7 linked regions of the Homo sapiens genome follow. Changing the gene in region 1 together with any one later gene gives a genetic interaction. Each region holds a gene or a part of one and is shown on either strand. Other genes may lie near its edges.

What was found.
Region 2: changes in YTHDC1 (region 1) and TAF1 together harm fitness less than expected from each alone (positive genetic interaction), as found in Homo sapiens cells (one large-scale study listed by BioGRID).
Region 3: changes in YTHDC1 (region 1) and MCM3AP together harm fitness more than expected from each alone (negative genetic interaction), as found in Homo sapiens cells (one large-scale study listed by BioGRID).
Region 4: changes in YTHDC1 (region 1) and AFG3L2 together harm fitness less than expected from each alone (positive genetic interaction), as found in Homo sapiens cells (one large-scale study listed by BioGRID).
Region 5: changes in YTHDC1 (region 1) and SAP18 together harm fitness more than expected from each alone (negative genetic interaction), as found in Homo sapiens cells (one large-scale study listed by BioGRID).
Region 6: changes in YTHDC1 (region 1) and EIF3D together harm fitness less than expected from each alone (positive genetic interaction), as found in Homo sapiens cells (one large-scale study listed by BioGRID).
Region 7: changes in YTHDC1 (region 1) and NFYC together harm fitness less than expected from each alone (positive genetic interaction), as found in Homo sapiens cells (one large-scale study listed by BioGRID).

What each region holds. Positions count from the first base shown.
Region 1 is NC_000004.12:68,343,591-68,347,090, forward strand, and holds part of YTHDC1 (YTH domain-containing protein 1), read right to left. Parts: intron 1-3,500. UniProt on the Homo sapiens protein: Regulator of alternative splicing that specifically recognizes and binds N6-methyladenosine (m6A)-containing RNAs.
Region 2 is NC_000023.11:71,383,357-71,386,856, reverse strand, and holds part of TAF1 (transcription initiation factor TFIID subunit 1), read right to left. Parts: intron 2,896-3,500; coding exon 2,722-2,895; intron 1,913-2,721; coding exon 1,808-1,912; intron 1-1,807. UniProt on the Homo sapiens protein: The TFIID basal transcription factor complex plays a major role in the initiation of RNA polymerase II (Pol II)-dependent transcription.
Region 3 is NC_000021.9:46,237,623-46,240,611, forward strand, and holds part of MCM3AP (germinal-center associated nuclear protein), read right to left. Parts: intron 1-2,989.
Region 4 is NC_000018.10:12,353,228-12,356,727, forward strand, and holds part of AFG3L2 (mitochondrial inner membrane m-AAA protease component AFG3L2), read right to left. Parts: coding exon 3,467-3,500; intron 1-3,466. UniProt on the Homo sapiens protein: Catalytic component of the m-AAA protease, a protease that plays a key role in proteostasis of inner mitochondrial membrane proteins, and which is essential for axonal and neuron development.
Region 5 is NC_000013.11:21,143,119-21,146,357, reverse strand, and holds part of SAP18 (histone deacetylase complex subunit SAP18), read right to left. Parts: intron 1,267-3,239; coding exon of another isoform or gene 1,074-1,266; intron 1-1,073. UniProt on the Homo sapiens protein: Component of the SIN3-repressing complex. Enhances the ability of SIN3-HDAC1-mediated transcriptional repression. When tethered to the promoter, it can direct the formation of a repressive complex to core histone proteins.
Region 6 is NC_000022.11:36,512,167-36,515,666, forward strand, and holds part of EIF3D (eukaryotic translation initiation factor 3 subunit D), read right to left. Parts: intron 437-3,500; coding exon 294-436; intron 1-293. UniProt on the Homo sapiens protein: mRNA cap-binding component of the eukaryotic translation initiation factor 3 (eIF-3) complex, a complex required for several steps in the initiation of protein synthesis of a specialized repertoire of mRNAs.
Region 7 is NC_000001.11:40,698,204-40,701,703, reverse strand, and holds part of NFYC (nuclear transcription factor Y subunit gamma), read right to left. Parts: intron 1-3,500. UniProt on the Homo sapiens protein: Component of the sequence-specific heterotrimeric transcription factor (NF-Y) which specifically recognizes a 5'-CCAAT-3' box motif found in the promoters of its target genes.

The sequences.
Region 1 (3,500 bases):
AGTGACATGATCTCAACTCACTGCAACCTCCGCCTCTGAGGTTCAAGCAATTCTCCCTGCCTCAGCCTCCCAAGTAGCTGGGATTACAGGCACCTGCCACCACGCCGAGCTAAATTTTTATATTTTTAGTAGAGAAGTGGTTTTGCCATGTTGGCCATGCTGGTCTTGAACTCCTGACCTCAGGTTAAAATCTATAAAATTTTGTTCCAAAATTAAGATGTCACAAAAAGATGGATTTTTTTATAATGTGCCAGTTCAAGAAATAAGCTTAATGAAACAATCCTACATTAAACAGTATTTACATTTAGAGCTAAAATTCAAATCTATCTAAAAGTTTTACACTAGCAGTCTAGAGGATAAACTCAGCTCTTGAATGCTGTTTTTAAAAATTCTAAGGATTTAATATGAAAACCCACTTAAAAAAATACTATTTGATTATTAGGGGCCCAGATTCTCACCTGAAAACAACCAGCTGGAAGAGTCTAGTCTTCTGTTAAGACACAGAGAAGGTAACATATGTCAAAGTTTTGCATGAGACAATCTGGGTTTGTATCTGGTGAATGAGTTTGTATCTGGTGAATCAGTATTACTACCTGAACAAAGAGCATGCTGGCTCTTAAAAAAAAAAAAAAACAAACTCATGATACCTAACGTATTAAGCAAGTACTTTATCTTTATCTGCCAGATTCTGGCATGCACACACATCTGCAACCCCTGCATAACACTGATCTTAAACTTGAAAAAACCCAAGGCTCAGTTTAATACACTAAGGCACAGGAACATCAAACTAGTTTTAGTATACCGTATATAATACTTTGGGAAAGAGGAGGAAAGCTAAAGGGGACAATCCTACTCAACTCCAGAAGATTAACTTCCTTGACAGTTGCAAGCACTGTGTTGTCAGATCTTCCACATTTTCAAGAGGACTCTGAAACCCAGATTTTTATTTGGAATTGCATGACTCTTCAGTGCTGCCTCAATTAAAAATGAAACAGCTGGCTGATAGATTCCACAGTTGGCTGCTAGATTCCTCCGTGAAAGTATAATCACGTGTGAATGTTTTGTATTAATATTATACACAAACTAATAGCAAAATGAGTTTTGAGGTAAAGGTACAGATTCCCAGGATACAGGAAGTAAACAAGGATATAAAAAGAGTAACAGGTCGGGCATGGTGGTTCACACTTGTAATCCCAGCATTTTGGGAGGCCAAAGCAGGCATATAGCTTGAGCTCAGGAGCTTGAAATCTGCTTGGGCAACATGATGAAACCCCATCTCTACAAAAAACACAAAAATTAGTGGTGTGCACCGCACCTGTAGTCTCAGCTACTTAGGAAGCTGAAGTGGGAGAATCACCAGAGTCTGGGAGGTCGCGGCTGCAGTGAGCCCTGATCGCACTACTGCACTTCAGCCTGGGCAACAGAGTAAGACCCTGTCTCCCCGCCAACAACAAAAAAAATCATTATTTTTAAGGCCTGTTCAAAAACTGACAAGATGTTAGAAATAACAAAGCTAGCTGTTTGTTGCTTGGCTGGGGGATTTTTGTTTTAGGTAAACATGGGAACTTAAAATTTACCATAATCTTTACATTCTTGGCCAGGAAGGTCACAAACTTTAACTCTAGGGATATCAGGGTAGAAAATTAACCTTTATCTGGGACAGTCATTTTTTACTGCAGAAGCTTCTGGGTCAGAAGACAGTGCTATTTATTAACATGTGAGGTTCCAGCATCAGACTAAGATTTAGTATTTAAGGAAAGTTAAATACTAAATATACTACACATTTTGTTTTCTAACACAAGGTACCAAAATAAATTATATTTTAATTCATTTAATATAATTTTAGTGGGACTTGGCAATGGAGCAAGATTACTAGAACCTCCCCCTTCTATTGTCTTGTAATGTACGTTGTACATTTAGACCAGTTTCTCAGTTTTTGTCATTGAAAATCGTCATTCCTCCAAATGAAGTTTAAAAACTTGGATTTCCCATCCAAAACCGCTCTTATAAAAACATACAATTTAAGTGCAAAGATATCATTTTAAATTTTCTACCTTACTTATACTATAGGTAAAATAAATATATTGGAGTATCAATATGTACTCTATGCCTTACAGAGCCCAAACTAAAGTGAACCAAGACAGGCAATTTTATCCTAAGAAATTACTATAGTGAGGGCCATAGTATATACACATAGTATATACAAATGTTGTGGCACAGTCATCATTTTGATGTTCAGATACACAAATATTTCCCATTGTGTTACTACTGCCTACAGTAGCACGCCCAACAGATCTGTTGCCTAGGGACAATAGACTATACCATACAGCCTAGATATGTAGTAGGTTATGCCACCTAAGTTTGTGTAAACACACTATGATAACACAACAAAACCGCCTAACAATGCCCATCTTCATTGTTAAATGACACGACTGTGTTTGTGTGCACGTGACTGTGTGCATGTGTGTGCACATGACTGTGTGTGTACATATATATATATATATATATATACACACACACCTGCATGTAACCGTCTGTATAACGGCTGGGCACGGTGGCTCACACCTGTAATTCCAGCACTTTGGGAGGCTAAGGCAGGCAGACTGCTTAAGCCCGGGAGTTCAAGACAATCCTGGGCAACATAGGAAGACCTCGTCTCTACTAAAAATAAAAAATTAGCTGGGCATGGTGGCACACACCTGTAGTCCCAGCTACTAGGGAGCCCTTGGGAGGTTGGGGATGCAGTGAGCCGTGACTGCTCCACTGCACTCCAGCCTAGGCGACAGAAGCCGTCTGAAAACAACTGTGTGTATATATACAGTAGTCCCTCACTTATCCAAGGTTTTGCTTTTGAGGGTTTGTTACCCCCAGTCAACTGAGTCAATCACTGTCCAAAGATATAAAAATGGAGAATTCCAGAAATAATTCATAAGTTTTAAATTGTGCGCTAAGTAGTGTGATGAAATTACGCACTGTCCCACTCTGTCCTGCCTGGAAAATGAATCATCCCTTTGGTCAACAAATATTTGCATTGCATATGTTACCTGCCATTAGTCATTTAGTAACTGTCTCGGGTAGTAGATCAACTGTCCACATATGGCAGTGTCAGTGTTCAAAGTAACTCTTATTTTACTTAATAATAGCCCCAAAGCACAAGAGTAGTGATGATGGCATACTGTAATGACTGTTCTACTTTATTATTGTTGTGGTTGATCTCTTACAGTCCCTGACTTATAAATTAAACTTCATCATAGGTATATACATATAGAAAAAAACATAGTATAGATAGGATATAGTAATATCCATTGTTTCAGGTATCCACTGTGGATCTTAGAACGTATTTACCAGGAAAATAAGGCTGGTAGAGGTTGGGGGTCAGGGGAGAACTGTTGTATAACTTAAACTGAGAAACTCTTAGCTTTCGTTATCATACTGCACATGTCATTTAACCAGTCAGTCAATGAAGTCCAACCTGGTAAATACTCAAGGTACTGAAACAC
Region 2 (3,500 bases), on another chromosome or scaffold:
CTACTACCCTAGACCCCAGTGTAGCCCAACACACAACGTGTGAGAGCAACATTTGTTGAATAAATTATTAAACTAATTAAAAAACAAAACAACGCCGGGCACAGTGACTCATGCCTGTAATCTCAGCACTTTGGGAAGCCGAGGCAGGTAGATCACTTTACCTCAGGAGTTCAAGACCAGCCTCGGCAACATGACAAAACCCCATCTCTACAGAAAATACAATAATTAGCTGGATGTGGTGGCGTGCGCCTATTGTCCCATCTACTTGGGAGGCTGAGGTAGGAGGATGGCTTGAGCCCAGGAGGCAGAAGTTGCAGTGAGCCAAGATCGTGCCACTGCACTCCAGCCTGGGTCACAGAGCCAGACCCTATCTCCAAACAAATAAATCATAAAACAACCAATGAGGTAGAAAGAGTGCTAGACAGAATAGGCTGGGAAAAAACAAAAGGAAAACACAAGACAGTAGGACAGAGGACAGCTGAACAGAAACATTTGAGCCAGTTTAAGTAGAGGCAAGATAGGGATAAACTGTCACAAGAAGCCTGAGTCTAAGGAAAGCCTTCCCCGAAAATCAGAAGAGTAGACAGAAAGAGGGAAGACCATCACTGAGTGTGGAAAGAAAATTCTACATGTGAAATATAGGCAGAAAAAGAATTACAGAAGAATACAGAAAAAGATCTTTTTTTTTTTTTTTTGAGATGGAGTTTCGCTCTTGTTGCCCAGGCTGGAGTGCAATGGCGCGATCTCGGCTCACTGCAACCTCCACCTCCCGGGTTCAAGTGATTCTCCTGCCTCGGCCTCCCGAGTAGCTGGGATTACAGGCATGTGCCACCATGCCCGGCTAATTTTGTATTTTGAGTAGAGGCAGAGTTTCTCCATGTTGGTCAGACTGGTCTCGAACTCCTGACCTCAGGTGATTCGCCCACCTCGGCCTCCCAAAGTGCTGGGATTAACAGGCGTGAGCCACCACGCTCGGCCAGAAAAAGATCTTTAAGAGACTACAAAAGTAGCCACAAAAGAAGAGGCTGAATTGGTAGAAAACCTCAACAGAAAGTTCCAGGGAAAGGAGAAGAACAATACAAAGATGATACTAAACATCCGGTTAGCAATAGACTATGAATGTAAAGGATAAAGAAAAAAACTGAGCTTTGCAGATGCTTTAGGAGAATAAACAACAACAACAGTAGAATAAACTAGGTATAAGAGTAGGACAAATGGTTAAGATTGCCAAGAGAAATGAAATGGAGAAAAAAAACAAGATGGGAGAGTGCTAGAGATTTTCCACATCATTTGTGGACCATCATACTTCCCCCCTTGAATATATAAAAGCTGTTATAAGAGAGCCTCTTTACACCCATTAGAACAAAGGAGGGAAAAAAAAAGCATTTCACTATGGCTGGGGACTGTAGATGGCACAGTTCAGGTGTGGTTCAATATTCACAATAACCACAGCTAATGTGATCAAAATGTTATCAATTTTATACACAAAAATTAAATATTCATAAATTATAGTAAATTTATAGTAAATTCATCCTAGGTTGACTTCCTTATGCTTCCCAGATGTTACTGAGCTTACCAGTGTGTATTTTTAAAAACCTATTTTACATTTAGCCTGAGAATAACACAATTCACAGCCAGTTTTAAGAAAAAGATTTCTTTAAAACATTTTTGGATTATACTTATTTTCTTTGTACTTAAAATTAAAGCATCTCAATCAACTAGAATTATAATAGTTCTTTCTGAGCTGACTGGTTCCTCATTTATCAATTTCCTTAGTTAACAGTAAAAACAGGAAAGAATTCCTCACTTGCAGCAATTGGCCAGGATGGAGAGAACCCAGGAAAGGAGATGTATGGCAGTAAACAGTTTCCCCATATTTACAATCTGGTGCTCCAGGATCTTTTCCAGGTTTCTATAAGGAACACAGAAGACCCAGTTATTTAGAATATATCAATAATCCTACACAATATGACCATAGCACTTTACTAATACAGGTTGAGTATCCCTCATCCAAAATGCTTGTGACCAGAAGTGTTTCGGATTTTGGAATAGTTGCATTATACTTACCAGTTGGGCATCCCAAATCTGGAAATCCAAAATGCTCCAATGAGCATTTGAGTATCATCATAGTGCTCAAAAAGTTTAGGATTGGCCGGGCATGGTGGCTCATACCTGTATCTCAGCACTTTGGAAGGCCAAGACGGGCAGATCACGAGGTTAAGAGATCGAGACCATCCTGGCCAACATGATGAAACCCTGTCTCTACTAAAAATACAAAAATTAGCTGGGTGTGGTGGCACACGCCTGTAGTCCAGCTACTCAGGAGGCTGAGGCAGAAGAATTGCCCAAACCCAGGAGGTGGAGGTTGCAGTGAGTGGAGATCATGCCACTGCACTCCAGCCTGGCAAAAGAGCAAGATTCAGTCTCAAAAAAAAAAAAAAAGTTTTGGATTTTGATTTCGAATTTTGAGATTTGAGATGCTCAACATGTTATAACTACAAAAAAAGGTACCACTCCTTTCTCCCAAGAAATTTATGGTATATGTTCACAGATTACCAGTAGATCTCTAACTACAGCTACGTTAATAATAAAAAATTTGTATGTAAGTTTGCAGTTTGTCTCACTACAGCTATGTTAATAACAAAAAGTTTGTACATAAAAGTTTATGGAAGCATAAGCAGAATTATGTATGGGAAAAAAATTTTCTGAGCAGAGACTCACCCGTTTATAATAGTTCTTTATCTTGGTTGCCATGCCAACCTGCATCATTAAGGGTCCATTTTCCTCACTATATTCTGCAAGAATAAGATCACCATCTTTGCCTGTGAGGTCCTGAGGTGTGCGCATAAAAAACATCTCTCCACCACCTGAAGCTTGCCTCTCTTGTTCTCTCATCTGTCCAGAACAAAGAAAATACCATCTAGCTCCTGACAGGACACTACTACACACAATGACGTTGTTCAATCTGAGACAAACACACCAAAAACATTTTACCTATTTTCCAATTTCATAATCAAAATTTTCAAACATACTGTAAAGTTCAAAGAATAGTACAGTCGGCCCTCCATATCCATGTATGGGTTCTGCATCCGTGATTTCAACCAACCATAGATAGAAAATATTCAGAAAATACAAGTGCATCTGTGCTGAACAGGTACAGACTTTTCTTGTCATTATTCCCTAACCAATAACAGTGTTAACAACTATTCACATAGCATTTACATTGGAGTAGGTATTATAAGTAATCTAGAGGTGATTTAAACTATAGGAGAGGATGTGCATAGGTTATGTGCAAATATTATGCTATTTTATCAGAAACTGGAACATCTAAAGATTTTGGTATCCAGAGAAGGTCCTAGAACCAATCTCCCAGAGATAACGAAGGACGACTGTACTATGAACACTTATTATCCCACGTCGCTGTTTATATTTCGCCATTTTTTTAAACTTTTATCTTTCTATAGACTTTGCTGGACAGTTTTTGAAAGATGCAGTCATTC
Region 3 (2,989 bases), on another chromosome or scaffold:
CTGAACTCAAGTGATGTGCACACCTCAGCCTCCCAAAGTGCTGGGATTATAGGCATGAGTCACCACACCCAGCCTTAAGCCTTTGCTTTTTACTAAGAATATAACTAAGTTATGACATCAACTGAGAAGCAGAAATGTACTTATTAAAAATTTAACAACTTCCTATGATAAAGCTTAATTTAAAAAAAAAAACTAGGCTGGGCTCGGTGGCTCATGCCTGTAATCCCAACACTTTGGGAGGCCGAGGCGGGCAGATCACCTGAGGTCAGGAGTTCAAGATCAGCCTGATCAACATGGTGAAACCCCGTCTCTACTAAAAATACAAAAATTAGCCAGGCATGGTGACACGTGCCTGTAATCCCAGCTACTTGGGAGGCTGAGGCAGGAGAACTGCCTGAACCCGGGAGGCGGAGGTTGCAGTGAGCCAGATCACGCCATTGCACTCCAGCCAGGGCAACAAGAGCAAAACTCCATCTCAAAAAAAAAAAAAAAAAAATTAGAGAAACCACTTCCCTTTAATTTATAAATCCAATTCCAATTTATATTTAATGAAAAAGGTGGTATTAATCCAAAAACAACTGCTTCGATGTGTTACTTAACATTACTTGTAATTGTCTTGTTTGGCTTATCTTATTTAATTTACTTTGGTTTTATGCATCTATAATTAATTCTTCTGACATTTTCCAAATGAGTGGATTGCTGCTTATAGCTTAAAATTAACTCAAAATAATATCCCACTGCCACCTAACATACTCTAGAGCTGTCTACTTCCATATACCGGTCTTTTCAAGAAAAACAATCTTGGCCAGGTGCAGTGGCTCATGCCTGTAATCCCAGCACTTTGGGAGGCCAAGGCAGGTGGATCACCTGAGGTCAGGAGTTCAAGACCAGCCTGGCCAACATGGTGAAACTGCGTCTCTACTAAAAATACAAAAATCAGCCAGGCATGGTGATGGGTACCTGTAGTCCCAGCTACTTGGGAGGCTGGGGCAGGAGAACTGCTTGAACCTGGGAGGTGGAGGTTGCAGTGAGTCGAGATTGTGCCACTGCACTCTAGCCTGGGCAACAGAGCGAGACTCTATCTAATAAAAAGGAAAAAAAAATCTCATCCCAAACCACTTAAATTATAGAGACTGATTTTAGTAATCGGACACATTCATTCACCCTTCCAAAACATATTCATTAAGCCTCCTCCAGATGCTAGGCATCATTCTAGGTACAAGGAATATTGCACTGAAACAAAACAGAGGCCCTGCCCTAAGCAATTTATACTTTAGTGAGGAGAGACAGACAAGGAACACATAACAAGAGAAACATGGTTTGAAGATGAGAAAGACAAAGCAGAGCCATGGAAACAAGAAGGTCGGAGATGGGCAAGCAGGGCCTAACAGAAGCAGACATTTGAGTAGAGATCTGAAGTGAGTACAAGATCAGCCATGGGGATGCTGGGGAGAATGGAGGGGCTGGACAGTCCTAGGCAAAAGGAACAGCAAACTCAGAGGCCCAACTGTGAACTGCCTACCATGCTCAAGGAAGGAGCGGAGGTCAGAGAGGAAATGGGGGGCAGATCACTCAGGGCCCTGGCCACCCCTGCAAAGTTTGCCTTTGATTGCAGGTGAAAGAGGGAAACCACTGAGAGGCTGTAAGCAAGCAAGTGACACGACCTCCATCTTAACTCACTTGAAAGGCACCCACCAGGTCTACCAAGACTAAACTGCAGCCTACTGTAATAATCCAGAAGGAAGATGATAGTGGCTTGAGCCACGTGGTGGCCATGGAAGTCATAACAAGTGGTCCAATTCTGAATGTATTTTCAATAGAGCCAATAGGATATGTGAATGGGCTGATGTGAGGGGATGATTCCAAGGCACCTGATCTAGGCAGCTGGAAGGATGGAGCCGCCATCAACAGAGATGACCACCAAAGGAAGGGGTTGGTTGGAAGAAAGCCGGGAACTGGATTTGGGATATGTTAACTTTGCAGTGGCTACCAGACATCCAATAGGTGTCTAATGAAGATTTCAAGGAAGCAGTAGCATGTTCAAGTGTGGAGTTCAGAGGTTTGAGATACAAATTTGGAGCTGTCAGAATAGTGATGTTACTTAAAAATCCATGAAACTGGATGAAATTTCTGAGGAGTAGGTACAGACGATGCAGAGGAGAGGTTGAGAGAATGAATCCAGGGGGCAGCTGGGGGATGAGGAGGAACCAGCAGGGCAGGAGGGGGACCACGGACATCCTAGGAGCAAGGAGGGGAGGATCAAGTATGGGATGCTACCAAGGACTGGGATTCACGGTCATGTTCAACCCTGGGCCTTCATCCCCATGGGAAAGAAGGCTGAAGAAGTGAGTATCACAAGCGTTTTTGAGGAGTTTTACCATTAAGAGGGCAGAAACATGAAGTGGTGGCTAAAGAGGGAAGTGGGACCAAGACAGGGAGGCATGTTTCATGTCTGTGTGCTGCTGATGGGCACCACCTAATATGGGGAGGGGTGGTAGCACGAGAGAGATACTCATTGAATGAATGTCCTTGGGTAGGTGGGAGATGAGATCCCAGCCCAGGGAAGGGCTGACTGACTACGAGCTGCATGGTTCGTTTCCAGCAACAAGAGGCGTCAGGAAGGGGATATAGGGAGGATGCTGGATGTGGCTGGGAGGGCAGGGAAGGCAGAGGACAACCTGTGGAAGGTCCCTTATTCCTGATTCTACTCAGTAAAATGGTAAACATGGCCATCAAATGAAAGCAAAGGAAAGGTATGCATGGGAGGGAGGGAAGTGGGCAATGTAGAGGAGGGGCAGCCCCAGCTCCTGTCCATTCACAGCATGGGATGATCCACCAATGCCTCAGGCTCCCAAGGGCAGGGTGCCTGTGGCCAGCCATAGTGTTCAGCACTCACCATCTTCTGAGCAGACTTAACCACATGAATTTCCCAGAAAAACTTAACACTGACTTTCAATAATAAATAATAAATGAAATTCACTTCAATATA
Region 4 (3,500 bases), on another chromosome or scaffold:
AAATCGGCCGGGCACAGTGGCTCATGCCTGTAATCCCAGCACTGTGGGAGGCCGAGGCTGGTGGATCACCTGAGGTCAGGAGTTCGAGACCAGCCTGACCAACATGGAGAAACCCCATCTCTACTAAAAATACAAAATTAGGCAGGCATGGTGGCGCGTGCCTGTGATCCCAGCTACTCAGGAGGCTGAGGCAGGAGAATCGCTTGAACCTGGGAGGCAGAGGTTGCAGTGAGCTGAGACTGAGCCATTGCACTCCTGCCTGGGCAACAAGAGCGAAATTCTGTCTCAAAAAAAAAAAAAAAAAAAAAAAATGAAATAAATCTTCAGCTTCCCGTCCCATGTGCAGACAATCTTTTTGTGATACACACTGTAAGGTACATTTTTTAAAAGAGTTACAAGTAGCAAAGCAGCAGCAAATGAGGAGTAACCTGGGTAACCGACTTAAGGTGAGCAAATCTTTCTCAGATCCCATAAATTACTGTATATGTAATAAACACTGATAATATCTGCTATTTTTGTAACATCAACAAATTAACATTACATATATACCTAAACAAAGACAACACAGTAGAGCTGTAAACTTTACATTCAGTTGAAAAGTTCAGACTTCTCTAGAGTTCACATTTCATGCCTAACACAGTTATTAACAAGCTGAGGCTACTAAGGAGTCTATGCAATCACACATATACAGTGAAGCCAAAGACCATCCAAGCCCATCAGCTCATCCCCAAAGAGGGGGTGACAGCCTTCGTCTGCCACCCACCCCACCACAGACCATCCTGATAGCACATACCCTCAGACAAACCTGCAGTCAGGAAGAGGAGGAAGAGCCACTCAGCACCTCACCATCAGTCACCTGCCCCTTCAAGGAGAATCAGAGACAACTCTCCACCTGCCCACTCCCACCCCCCCCCCCCCACTTCACTGGACAGAAGTCCAGGTCTTCCTGCCTGGATTTCTGGATGTTCATTCCTACACTGCTCTGAACACATCCCCTAAAATAACTGGTATCCTTCTCCAGCCTCCCCTCTGAATTCCAGATCTGTGACCTACAGACCCACACCTTCATAGTACATCCATCCCATCCCGGCATGAACAGGAACTCAGCCATTCCAGCAAGCCTTAAGCAGGAGTCTGCATCTTCCCCTACAGGCTAACTGGAGCTGGGGTCCACCTCACACCCCACTGCTGCTGCCAAAATAACTGCTGGAAAAGCCCCTGCTTGCTGAGGCTCAGGCCTTGTGGCAGGCACTCCACCCCACTGTGCCATGGGTCTCCCCCAGCCTGACTGCCACTAGGCATGATGTCCTCAGTGATTTCCATCCATGTGGCTCTCGGTCTCTCAGTTCCCTGACCACCCCTTCATTCACCTTTTACTTCACTCTGACAAGACCAGCACTGCCAAGGTTGCCTTTTAAACCACCATCTTCAAGTCATCTACTCTCTGAGCACCCCCTCCTATCATCTGGACCCACAGACACACTCAGGTATCTCACGCCAACTCTTTACCACTTCTCAGCTCTGCAACCCACCAGGCCCACCCTTCCCCACCACCCCCCACAGCTCCTCTCCTGTCTTCAATTTCCCCCCATCCACTTTATATCTCATGGCCCATCATCATTAACACCCAACTCCCCCTCATTCCCTATTTTTCTATGACTTATCTGCACAACAACAGCAAAGTGTGAAATAGATGTGAAGGTGAGGCCGGACAAGGTGGCTCACGCCTGTAATCCCAGCACTTTAGGAGGGCAAGGCAGGGGGTGCATCACCTGAAGTGAGGAGTTCAATACCAGCCTGGCCAACATAGTGAAACCCCATCTCTACTAAAAATACAAAAATTAGCTGGGCATGGTGGTGGGTGCCTGCAATCCCAGCTACTAGGGAGGCTGAGGCAGAATCACTTGAACCCGGGAGGCAGAGGTTATGCCGCTGCACTCCAGCCTGGGCGACAGAGCAAGACTCCATCTCAAAAAAAATTAAAAAAAAAAAAAAAGAACTCTTACAATTCAACAACCAAAAAAACCCAATTAAAAAATGAGCAAAGGATCTGAATAGACAACTCTCCAAGGAAGATATACAAATATACAAATGGCCAATAAGCATATACAAGATGTTCAACATCACTCCTCATCATGGAAATGCAAATCAAAACCACGAGATACTACATCACACCCACTAAGGTGGCTATCATCAAAGTGTTGGTAAGGGCGGGGAAACATCAGAACCCCTTACACATTGCTGGTAGGGATGGAAAATGGGCAAGTAGTTTGGAAAACAGTCTGGTGGTTCCTTAAAATGTTAAACATGGAGTTACCATTCAAAAACATGTTAAGTGAAAGAAATCAGGCATAAAAAAACCACATATTGTATAATTTCATTTACATGGAATGTCTGTACTAGGAAATTCCTTTGGGTAGTTTGCTTAGGACTCCCGATTTACATATTTTTTTTTTTTTTGAGACGAGTCTCACTCTGTCACCCAAGCTGGAGTGCAGTGGCGTGATCTCAGCTCACTGCAAGCTCTGCCTCCCAGGTTCACGCCATTCTCCTGCCTCAGCCTCCCAAGTAGCTGGGACTACAGGCGCCCGCCACCACGCATGGCTAATTTTGGTTTTGTTTTTTTAGTAGAGATGGTGTTTCACCATGTTAGCCAGGATGGTCTCGATCTCCAGACCTCCTGATCCGCCTGCCTTGGCCTCCCAAAGTGCTGGGATATCAAGTGTGAGCCACCACGCCCGGCCACGATTTCTTCTTGATGTAATGGAAATGTTGTAAAACTGATTGTGGTGATGGTTGCACAAATCTGTGAATTACTAAAAGCTACTGAACTGTATACTTTACAGGGATCAATTGTTTGGTATGTCAATTATATCTCAATAAATGTTGTCACCAAAAAAAAAAAAAATCCACAAATAAAGCAAAATTTTTTTTTTTTTTTTGAGACAGCGTCTCACTCTGTTGCCCAGGCTGGAATGCAGTGGTGTCATCTTGGTTCACTGCAACTTCTGCCGCCTGGGTTCAAGAGATTCTCCTGCCTCAGCCTCCGAAATAGCTGGGATTATAGGCATGCGCGACCACGCCTGGCTAATTTTTCTATTTTTAGTACAGACAGGGTTTCGCCATGTTGGCCAGGCTGGTCTCGAACTCCTGACTTCAAGCGTTCCACCCACTTCAGCCTTCCAAAGTGCTGGAATTACAGGCATGAGCCACCGCGCCCAGCCGTCAATTCTTTAAATTGGTCTACTATAGGTAGCAGACTGCAGTCCTAGCTGGTGCGAGGGAAGGTGGGGTGGAAGTCACAGGCCTTGCTGAAGTCTTAGGCCTGGAGGAGAGCTCAGGCCAGGGACTGGTGAGAGGTCACTCTAGCACTCTAGGGGGAAGGGCCATCTCTAGCAAGTGCCTCCATCTGTGGTGAAGTGGTGGGTGCAAGGAAGCTGTACCATCCGAACAGAATGAGACTCACTCTAGCAGGGCCCACACCAACGAACATCTCCAAA
Region 5 (3,239 bases), on another chromosome or scaffold:
ACGTTTTGTTTTTGAGAGAGTCTCGCTCTGTCGCCCAGGCTAGAGTGCAGTGGCGTGACCTCAGCTCACTGCAACCTCCGCCTCCCAGGTTCAAGCAATTCTCCTGCCTCAGCCTCCTGAGTAGCTGGGATTACAGACGCCCACCACCACGCCCAGGTAATTTTTCTATTTTTAGTAGAGACAGGGTTTCACCATGTTGGCCATGCTGGTCTCGAACTCCTGACTTCAAGTGATCCACCTATCTTGGCCTCCCAAAGTGCTGGGATTGATTACAAGCGTGAGCCACTGCGCCCAGCCAGATGTGTTTCTTCTTTCTTAGATAGAATTGTAAGTTTTACAACAGATAAGAGTACTAGAGCCAATGAAATATACAAAAGTTTCTTACAATGAAGCACAGGCTCTTGTCACAATAGTTTCTTACCCTGCAAATATTGACTTGAATCCAACTTTCATATAGTCCCCTGAGCTAATAAGAGAACAATCTGAAAAAAATATTTTAACATATAAGCATCTTAGAAATAACCTAGTATACATTTTTTTGCCAGGTGCGGAGGCTCATGCCTGTAATCCCAGCACTTTGGGAGGCCAAGGCGGGTGGATCACCTGAGGCCAGGAGCTCAAGTTCGAGAGCAGCCTGGCCAACATGGTGAAACCCCGTTTCTACTAAAAATCCAAAAATTAGCCAGGCGTTGTGGCACACATCTGTAGCCTATAATCCCAGCTACTCGAGAGGCTGAGACAAGAGAATCGCTTGACCTGGGAGGCGGAGGCTGCAGTGAGCCAAGACTGTGCCACTGTGCTCCAGCCTGGGTGACAGACTGAGACTCTGTCTCAAAAACAAAAAAACCTGAGGTCACATTGGTTTATCTGTCTCAGAGGTGACCTTTTTTCAACCTGATATTTTGATGTTAACTATTCTGTATCAATTATAGGTTCAGTATCCCTTACCCAAAATACATGGGACTAGAAGCGTTTTAGGTTTTTTCAAATTTTAGAATTTTTGCATATACGTAAGATATCTTGGGGTTGTGACCCAAGTTTAAATAAGAAACTCATTTATGTTTCAAACATACCTTATACACAGCTGGAATACAATTTTATACATCATTTTAAGTAATTGTGTGCATGAAAGGAAGTTTGGTGCACGCCTGTAATCCCAGCTACTCAGGAGGCTGAGGCAGGAGAATCGCTTATACCTGGGAGGCAGAGGTTGCAGTGAGCCGAGATCGCGCCACTGCACTCCAGCCTGGATGACAGAGCAAGACTCTGTCTCAAAAAAAAAAAAAAAAAAAGAGGTCAAGAACTTATGTGTGCAATTTTCCACCGGTGTCACGTCAGCTCTCAAAAGTTTCAGATTTTGTGGCATTTCAGATTTTGGACTTGCGATGCTCAGTCTATATTCTGATACACAGTACATACTTATGATGATATATACCAGAAAGAATTTTTTCCTTTCTAAAAATATTTTCAATATTGTCTTGCTCTTAATTAATTTGGGGGATTTATATCACACCTTTTATCAGTTCTGACAGTGTGAAACCTACACAAGCTTCCCACCTTCTAAGGACTGTCTTTCCAGACCAACAATTGGAGTGCCAAGTGTTGCTTTTTCATCACTAGTCAGAAGCTTGAGGACAGGGTGGGGTTCAGTACTTGTGTCAGCTTGACGAAGCTACAGTCCCCAGATATTCAACCAAACACTAACCTAGGTATTGCTGTGAGATATTTTATAGATGTGACTAAAGTCAACAACCAATTGACCTTAAATTCAGAGGTCTATCCTATATAATCTGGGGAGGCCTGATTCTATTAGTTGAAAGGCCCTAAGAGCAGCCTTTCCTTCCTGAGAACCTGCCCTACAGATTTGACAATTAAGGGCCTAGACAGCCCCCACAATCACGTAAACCAAATTCTTTGCAATAAAGCTTTTTTTTTTTTTTTTTTTTTTTTTTGAGATGGAGTCCCGCTCTGTCGCCCGGGCTGGAGTGCAGTGGCGCTGATCTCGGCTCACTGCAACCTCTGCCACCTGGGTTCAAGCAATTCTCCTGCCTCAGCCTCCCAAGTAGTTGGGATTACAGGCACCCGCCACCATGCCTGGCTAATTTTTGTATTTTTAGCAGAGACGGGGTTTCACCATGTTGGCCAGGCTGGTCTCCAACTCCTGACCTCATGACCCGCCCACCTCGGCCTCCCAAAGTGCTGGGATTACAGGCGTGAGCCACCACGCCCAGCAGAAATAAATCTCTTAACACATCTCTCCCAATTCTGTTTTTCTGGCTGAGCCCTGATTGACTTTGGTGAACACAGCCTGCCTCTACTGGGCTCCTCTGGACTTCCACTCCTGTTTCCATAACTTCTCTTGGGACTGCCTATTTAACCCCACAGTCTACTTCTCCAAATTGAGAATTTCCAGTATATGTTAACTAATTTTCCCTCATTACTATTTCTGGGAATGAGGGCAGGCCTTTGTGTTACCCCCATACCAATCATCCAGTCTTTCAGAATCTTTTCTTTGGCCACCATTTTGAGATGTAACTTAAAGTTGTTCCTTCTTTGTTTGGTTGCAATTTATGGACGGTATAGTTTAGGACAGGATTTTTTTGGTAATTTTTTTTCTTGATTCAGAGTGGAAGGTCTGTGGAACAACCTCACCCTGCCATTTTAACCCTAAAAATCACTCTATTCATCCGCTTTCCCTGATAAAAGGACTTACTACAGGGAGGAGCAGTACCGTCTTGACTTTATACCCTCAGGATCTAAGCACACACAGCACCTGGCAAATAGGAACTCTTGTTGGAAGAAACATACACTTTAATTTCTGAAGAGATTTTCATCAAGCCATTATTCAACAGTTCTTCCATATAAGCTAAATCAACCTTCCTAGAACACTTACCCTTGAGTGATGCTTAAGTACAGGTATCATACTACTACATAAATTTAACAAGCACCTCCAAATAAGACAAGTAAGGTCCCAATCTTCAAGGGATTAGCTCTAGTGTACAGGGCTTAAATAGTTTAAAATTATACATCTTTTGGGGAATATAAAATAGTGCAGCTGCTGTGAAAAAGTTTGGTGGTTCCTCAAAAATTAAACAAAGTTAACATATGACCCAGTAATCCCCTCCTAGGTACATACCCAAAAGAACTGAAAGCAGCGACACAAACACATTTGTATGCCAATGTTCACAGCAGCATTATTCACAATGGCAAAAAAGGTGAAACAACCCAAGTGTCCATCA
Region 6 (3,500 bases), on another chromosome or scaffold:
GGCATGAGCCACCGCGCCCGGCAGTCCACTGCTATTTTCAAGGGAAAGGGAAAACATCGTCTTCTGAGTTCTCAGTTCTGGATTTCATTGACACCATTGCCCTAGTTCAGGACTCCATTCAGCATGCCTGCTGTTTGGCATTTGTCTCCTAACTGACCCCTCCATCTCTACCCCACCCCTGGATTTATCTCTGCCAGTCAATTGTCCAGTACACGGGGAGGGGAGGGTCAACCTCCCTACCCAGACCCTTCCTTTCACAAGATCAGCTGCCAGCTCCTGCACAGGAATCTCACCCAAGCTTGAGGTACTCAGATCCAGCCAGCAAAGCACAGCAGGTCCACCGGGCCAACTTGTAGCTGTTGTTCTTCAGCTCCGTGGCAATGACAGCCCCTCGCTGAGAGTCCAGCTTCTGACGCCAGTCAACGCCATTACAGTGCTGCAGGAGAGCCCCGTTAGAGAAACAGAAGCAAGCTCCAAATGCCCAAGGTGCTGGGACCTCCTCTGGCAGAGAAGGAACTCCCTAGTCTGCTTGCTTAGAAAGTGGGTAGGTACGCACTAAATCTTACCATTTAAGAGACAAAGACATAGTCCCTTCCCTTGCACAGCCTGCCGCACAGCAGTCACTCAACGACTTACAATTCCTCTCTTCTAAAAGCTCGCCTAGACAGGGAATGATGGATGGACACACACGGACACACACACACACACACACACTTTAGAAGTGTCATATAAACAGCAGAGCCAAGTGTTTACTATGTGTTGCGTGGTAAGGAAGGGCTTCACAGAGGACGTGTAACAGTGAGCCAAGTGGAGAATATTGGCTCAAGTGCAGGTGTAGCCAGGAGGTCTTGATCTGAGAGGCATGGTGGGATAGGAAAGACAGGCAGAGTTGGCCTTAGATGGGGGTGGAAGCCTGCAGTGGGTGCAAAGCTGAGTCTGACATTTTACATAAATGCACACACAGTAGAAAAGGACCCCAGAGAGATCCTCTTTTCTACCCATATCATTTGTAGACGTGGGAAGTTGGACCCAGAGTGAAATGACTGGTCAAAGGTCACATGACAGAGGTTCCCAAACTTTCTTGGTTCATGGCAAACACAGGGCAAAAGAAATACTCAAGAATTTCTTTTAAATTTTTTTTCTTTTTTTTTTTGAGACGGAGTTTTGCTCTTGTTGCCCAGGGTGGAGTGCAGTGGCACGATCTTGGCTCACTGCAACCTCCGCCTCCCGGGTTCAAGTGATTCTCCTACCTCAGCCTCCCTAGTAGTTGGGATTACAGGTGCCCGCCACCATGTCCAGCCAATTTTTGTATTTTTGGTAGATACGGGGTTTCATCATGTTGGCCAGGCTGGTCTCGAACTCCTGACCTCAGGTGATCCACTCGCCCCGGCCTCCCAAAGTGCTGGGATTACAGGCGTGAGCCACCGTGCCCGGCCAAGAATTCCTTTTATTTAGTTAGGGTCAAACCATGTATTAGTATTCTGACAAGATGTCTCTGTGTTTCCCTAAAAAATTTAAAATATCCTGCAGCACTCCTGTGAGTTTGCTGTGGCACATTTTTTGGAGATGGGGTCTCACTATGTTGCCCAAGCTGGTGAGTTCAGGATTTGAACTCATGAACCCAAGCGATTCTCCCACCTCAGGCTCCTGAGTAGCTAGGACTATAGGTGCATACTACTGCATACAGCTTGCTGGGGCATGTTAGAATTCTTCTCCCAATCTGCACTGCTGATGAAGCGTGTATTGGACAATTGACTGGCGGAGATAAATCAAATATAGAAGTTGGGTGGAGGTAGAGAAATCAGTTAGGAGACAAATGTCAAACAGGCATGATGAAATGGGGCCCTGAACTAGGGCAATTATCAGTGAAATCCAGGACAGATTCAGAAGACAGCAAAGCCTTCTATTTTGCTAACAGCAAAACAGAATAATGTAAAAAAGAAGTTGGAGATGTTGGAGGCTCAGAGCTTAGGTGGAAGAAAGACAATGCTGATGGACAGCTGGCCCAGAGGCAATGACGGGACTGGGGACACATGGAAGGGGAAGGTGTTTTAGCAGAAAAACAATGGGAAGTATAATAAATCAGAGTAGATTTGAGAAATCATTTTCAAAGAGTTCATGGTTGAGGCCTGGGATGGGCAGAATTCTAAGATGACCCCCAGTGACCCTTGCCCTTGCAGAGTCTCCTCCCCTTGACTACGGGCAGAACCTATGGCTAGGATCAAGTATCACCCCCATGATCATCCTACCTTGTATGTCAAAAGGGATTTTGCAGATGTAAGGCCGCAAATCAGTTTACCTTAATATACACTACCTGGCTGGGCTCACCCAACCGTATGAGTCTCTTAAATCTAGGTGTAGAGGTCGGAGACGGAGGAAGTCAGAGATCTGAAGCACAAGAAGGATCTGATGTGCTGTTGCTATCTTGGAGATGGAGGGGGCCATGTGACAAGGAATGCAGGTGGCCTCTAGGAGCCAAGAGAGGCTCCCAGCTGACAACTGGCAGGGGGATGGGGGCCTCAGTCATCTAACTGCAGGGAAATGAACTTTACCCACAATAAGAATGGGCTTGGAAGTGGCTTTTCTTTCAGAACCTCCAGATGAGAACTCAGTTCTATTTCTATTGACACCATGATTTCTGCCTTGTTTGGATTTGTGGCCCCACCCAAACTGCATGTCAAATTGTAAACTCCAATGTTGGAGGAGGAGCATGGTGGGAGGTGACTGGATCATGGGGGCAGACTTCCCCCTTTGGCACTATTCTTGTGGTAAGAGTATTCAAGAGATCTGGTTGTTTAAAAGTGTATACCAACCTCCCCCCTCTCTTTCTCCTGCTCTGGCCATGATGTGCCTGCTTCTCCTTTGCTTTCTGCCACCATTGCAAGTTTCCTGAGGTCTCCTCAGCCACGCTTCCTCTAGAGCCTGCAGAACTGTGAGCCAATTAAACCTCTTTTCTTTATAAATCACCCACTCTCAGGCATTTCTTTACAGCAGTGTGACAATGGACTAATACAAGGACCAAGCACACAGCACTGGACTTCTAACCTACAAAACCGTGAGCTAATAAATTGGTATTGTTAGGCCGGGTGCTGTGGCTCACGCCTGTAATCCCAGCACTTTGGGAGGCCGAGGCAGGCAGATCACCTGAGGCCGGGACTTCAAGACCAGTCTGACCAACATGGAGAAACCCCATCTCTACTAAAAATACAAAATTAGCTGGGTGTGGTGGTGCATGCCTATAATCCTAGCTACTCGGGAGGCTGAGGCAGGAGAATCGCTTGAGCCCGGGAGGTAGAGGTTGCAGTGAGCCGAGATCGCACCGTTGCACTCCAGCCTGGGCAACAAGAGCGAAACTCCGTTTCAGAAAAATAAAATAAAAAATAAAAGTAAAATACATAAATCGGTATTAAGTCATTAAGTTTCTGTTAATTTGTTATGGTGCGAAAGAAAACTAATACAAAGTTATATAATACAGAAGTATGTATGGCGAAGAGAGCTGT
Region 7 (3,500 bases), on another chromosome or scaffold:
GTCTACTGTAACAAACAGGAAAGTTAAAATAGGCAATCATGATGCTGTACATTAAGAGTTACAACACATGCAAATGCAAAATGCTATGGGAGGACATAAGCATAGCACCTAACCCAGGGCTTACGTAAGTTTTAGGCTGGTCAGAGAAAGCTTCTTAGGAGAATTAAAATCCTAAGAATAAAAACCAAGATAGACAAAGTGAACTGCATGTGCAAAGGCCTGAAGCTGACAGAAAGTATTACATTCCTGTTTGGTATAGCAGCAGCCCAGAAGCAAGAAGCTAGAAGTAGAGTTAGAAAGGTAGGCCGGGCGCAGTGGCTCATGCCTTTAATCCCAGCACTTTGGGAGGCCAACTGAAGTCAGGAGTTTGAGACCAGCCTGGCCAACGTGGTGAAACCCCATCTCTACTAAAATACAAAAATTAGCCAGGCATGGTGGCAGGCACCTGTAATCCCAGCTACTCAGGAGGCTGAGGCAGGAGAATCCCTTGGAGGCAGGAGAATCCCTTGTACCCAGGAGGCAGAGGTTGCAGTGAGCCAAGATTGCACCAATGCACTCCAGCCTGGGTGACAGGGCGAGACTCTCTCTCAAAAAAAAGAAAGGTATACAGGGTTGGACAAAGCTAATATACTAAAACTTTATTCTAAGGACAATGATAAGGAACTAATGCGTCTTAAACATTGGACTGGCACAATCAGTCCCACGTTTAAAGTGTAATTCTGATTTTCCCAGCCCCATGTTTAAGACTGTTTAGTTCCTTACCATTGGGTACAGTGTGGAGAATAAGCTGGAGAAGGGGACACAGTGGGAGGATGGCAGCACTCTAGACCACTAACGTGGAAAACAGGATGCTAAAGTTATCTGGTGACTGGATGCAGTAGTGAAGACACTGAGTTCAAGACCAGCCTGGACAACAAAGCAAATAATTCAGAATTTGTCATCTCCTTAACGTCCATTTATTAGTTTATTAAAAATTAAAAAATAAAACAAATTTTTTTGAATTCAAGACCAGCCTTGAACCTCATAGAGTGAGACTCCATCTCAAAAAATAAAAAATAAGCCAGGTACGGTAGCTTACACCTGTAATCCCAACACTCTGGGAGGCCAAGGTGGGAGGATCACTTGAACTGAAGAATTTGGGACTAGCCTGGACAACATAGCAAGACCTCCTCACTACTAACAATAAAAAAATTAGCTGGGCAGGCATGGTACTACATCCCTGTAGTCCCAGCTACTCAGGAAGCTGAGGCAAGAGGATGACTTGAACCCAGAAGTTTGAGGTTGCATTGAGCTATGATCACACCACCTCACTCCAGCGTGGGCAAGAAAGTGAGACCCCATCTCAAAAAAATTAATTAAAGTAAAATAAAAAATAAAGAAGATTCAAAAATCACTAAGACCCAGTGGTTAATAAGGCATGTAGAATAACAACACTGTGCTTGATAAAAAGCATGTACTCAAAAAATGGTACCTGCTACTATTATTATTGTTATTGGGCATTGGATTAGATGACCTTTGAAATCACATTCATCCTTAAGAGTCTACGTTACCTTGAAGATGTATCTTGTTCTCAGAAAAGTCCTTTCCCACGATTACCAAGCTATCTTATACAAAATGATTCATTTTTTTATTCATAGACTACACCAGAACTGCTCAACTGGGCTCCACTACACACCAGTCATAGCATGAAACGTTTATTAGGTGTTCTCACAAACAGCGGTCCATGACCAAGTAAGTCTGAGTAACACCGCGTAATGTATCTTCCCTCTTGAAGGGTCATAGGCAAATAAGCACCAAGGCTCTGAATAATAATTCTGCAGTAAAGAAAGGCATTTCACTTTGGCCATTTTTTGTCAAGGATCCTCTTTTTATCCCCAAAGGACACTGATTAGCACTACACAGAACTAATGTTCAGTGGAAGAGCTTGGGAAATGCTACTCTAAACCAACTTACAAATTTTAGTGGAGTGAAAAGACTATAGGCAACTGTATTCTGATAACCTTCCAAAATGGTTAGAGTTTTACACACATTATGGCGTTTTCCTTTCTAACTTAGTACTACTGAAAATGACATTAAATACCACCATAAATAGCAATCCTTTGCCTCCTAAGTGATTGCCAACCAAGCATTCTTGGCTTCTTAAAAGGCCCCAACTTCGTCATTTCATAATGAGCAAATTCTATGCTACTTACTTTCAGGGTACAGTAATAATTTTTAAAACAGTTTAAAATGACAAGGATGTCAACTGTGCAGATAATGTGTACTTTATTAGCCCCTTCTCTCTTCTCTTTTAAAAGGAACAGATCATGCCAGTGTCAAAGGGATATATCTTCTTAACACTGGGCAAAGAATCTCAACTTCATAGAGATTACTGGACAGTTTACAGCTCTGGAGGCCAAGGGCAACAGTAATTTGGGATTGTGAAAACCTTCAGTACTTCAGATTTAAGCCAATGACATGATACAAAATATTCTATACTCTAACATCATTTCCTATGAGTCATCTCATTCCTTTTTTGGTTTTGTTTTGTTTTTTTTTGGAGACAGTCTCACCCTGTCGTCAAGGCTGGAGTGCAATAGAGGCGCGATCTCGGCTCACTGCAACCTCTGCCTCCCGGATTCAAGCGATTCTCCTGCCTCAGCCTCCCGAGTAGCTGGGGTTACAGAGGCCCACCACCACGCCCAGCTAATTTTTTGTATCTTTAGTAGAGATGGGATTTCACCATGTTGGCCAGGCTGGTCTTAAACTCCTGACCTCATGATCTGCCCGCCTCAGCCTCCCAAAGTGCTGGGATTACAGGTGTGAGCCACGGCGCCCGGCCCATCTCATTCCTCTTATTAAAACACTTTGAAACACTGCTCAAGATCACTATTTATGGTTCATACTCATGAATGTATTTAAGAATAGGACAATTATTGAATCTTATTAAGAATATACAATTGACTTTAACACTTGAACCCGGGAGGCAAAGGATATACTATTGGCTTTAAATGAAGGGTATTCAGGCTGGGCGCAGTGGAGGCTGAGGCAGGCAGATCACCTGAGGTCAGCAGTTCGTGACCAGCCTGGCCAACAAGATGAGACCCTGTCTCTACAAAATATACAAAAATTAGCCAGGTGTGGTGGCACGCACCTGTAGTCCCAAGCTACTCAGGAGGCTGAGGCAGGAGAATCGTCTGAACCCAAAAGGCAGAGGTTGCAGTGAGCCGAGGTCATGTCACTGCACTCCAGCCTGGGCGACAGAGCAAGACTCCAGCAAATAAATAAATGAATGAATGGCATTCATTTAAATAGGACACCTTATATATAGTACCTTGAACGTGAATTTTTTTTTTTTTTTCAAAGAGGGAATCCCGTTCTGTCACCCAGGCTGGAGTGCAGGGGCATGATCTCAGCTCACTGCAGCCTCCGCCTCTGGGTTCGAGCGATTCTCCTGCCTCAGCCTCCTGAGTAGCTGGGACTACAGGTGCCTGCCACCATGCCTGGCTAATTTTTGTATT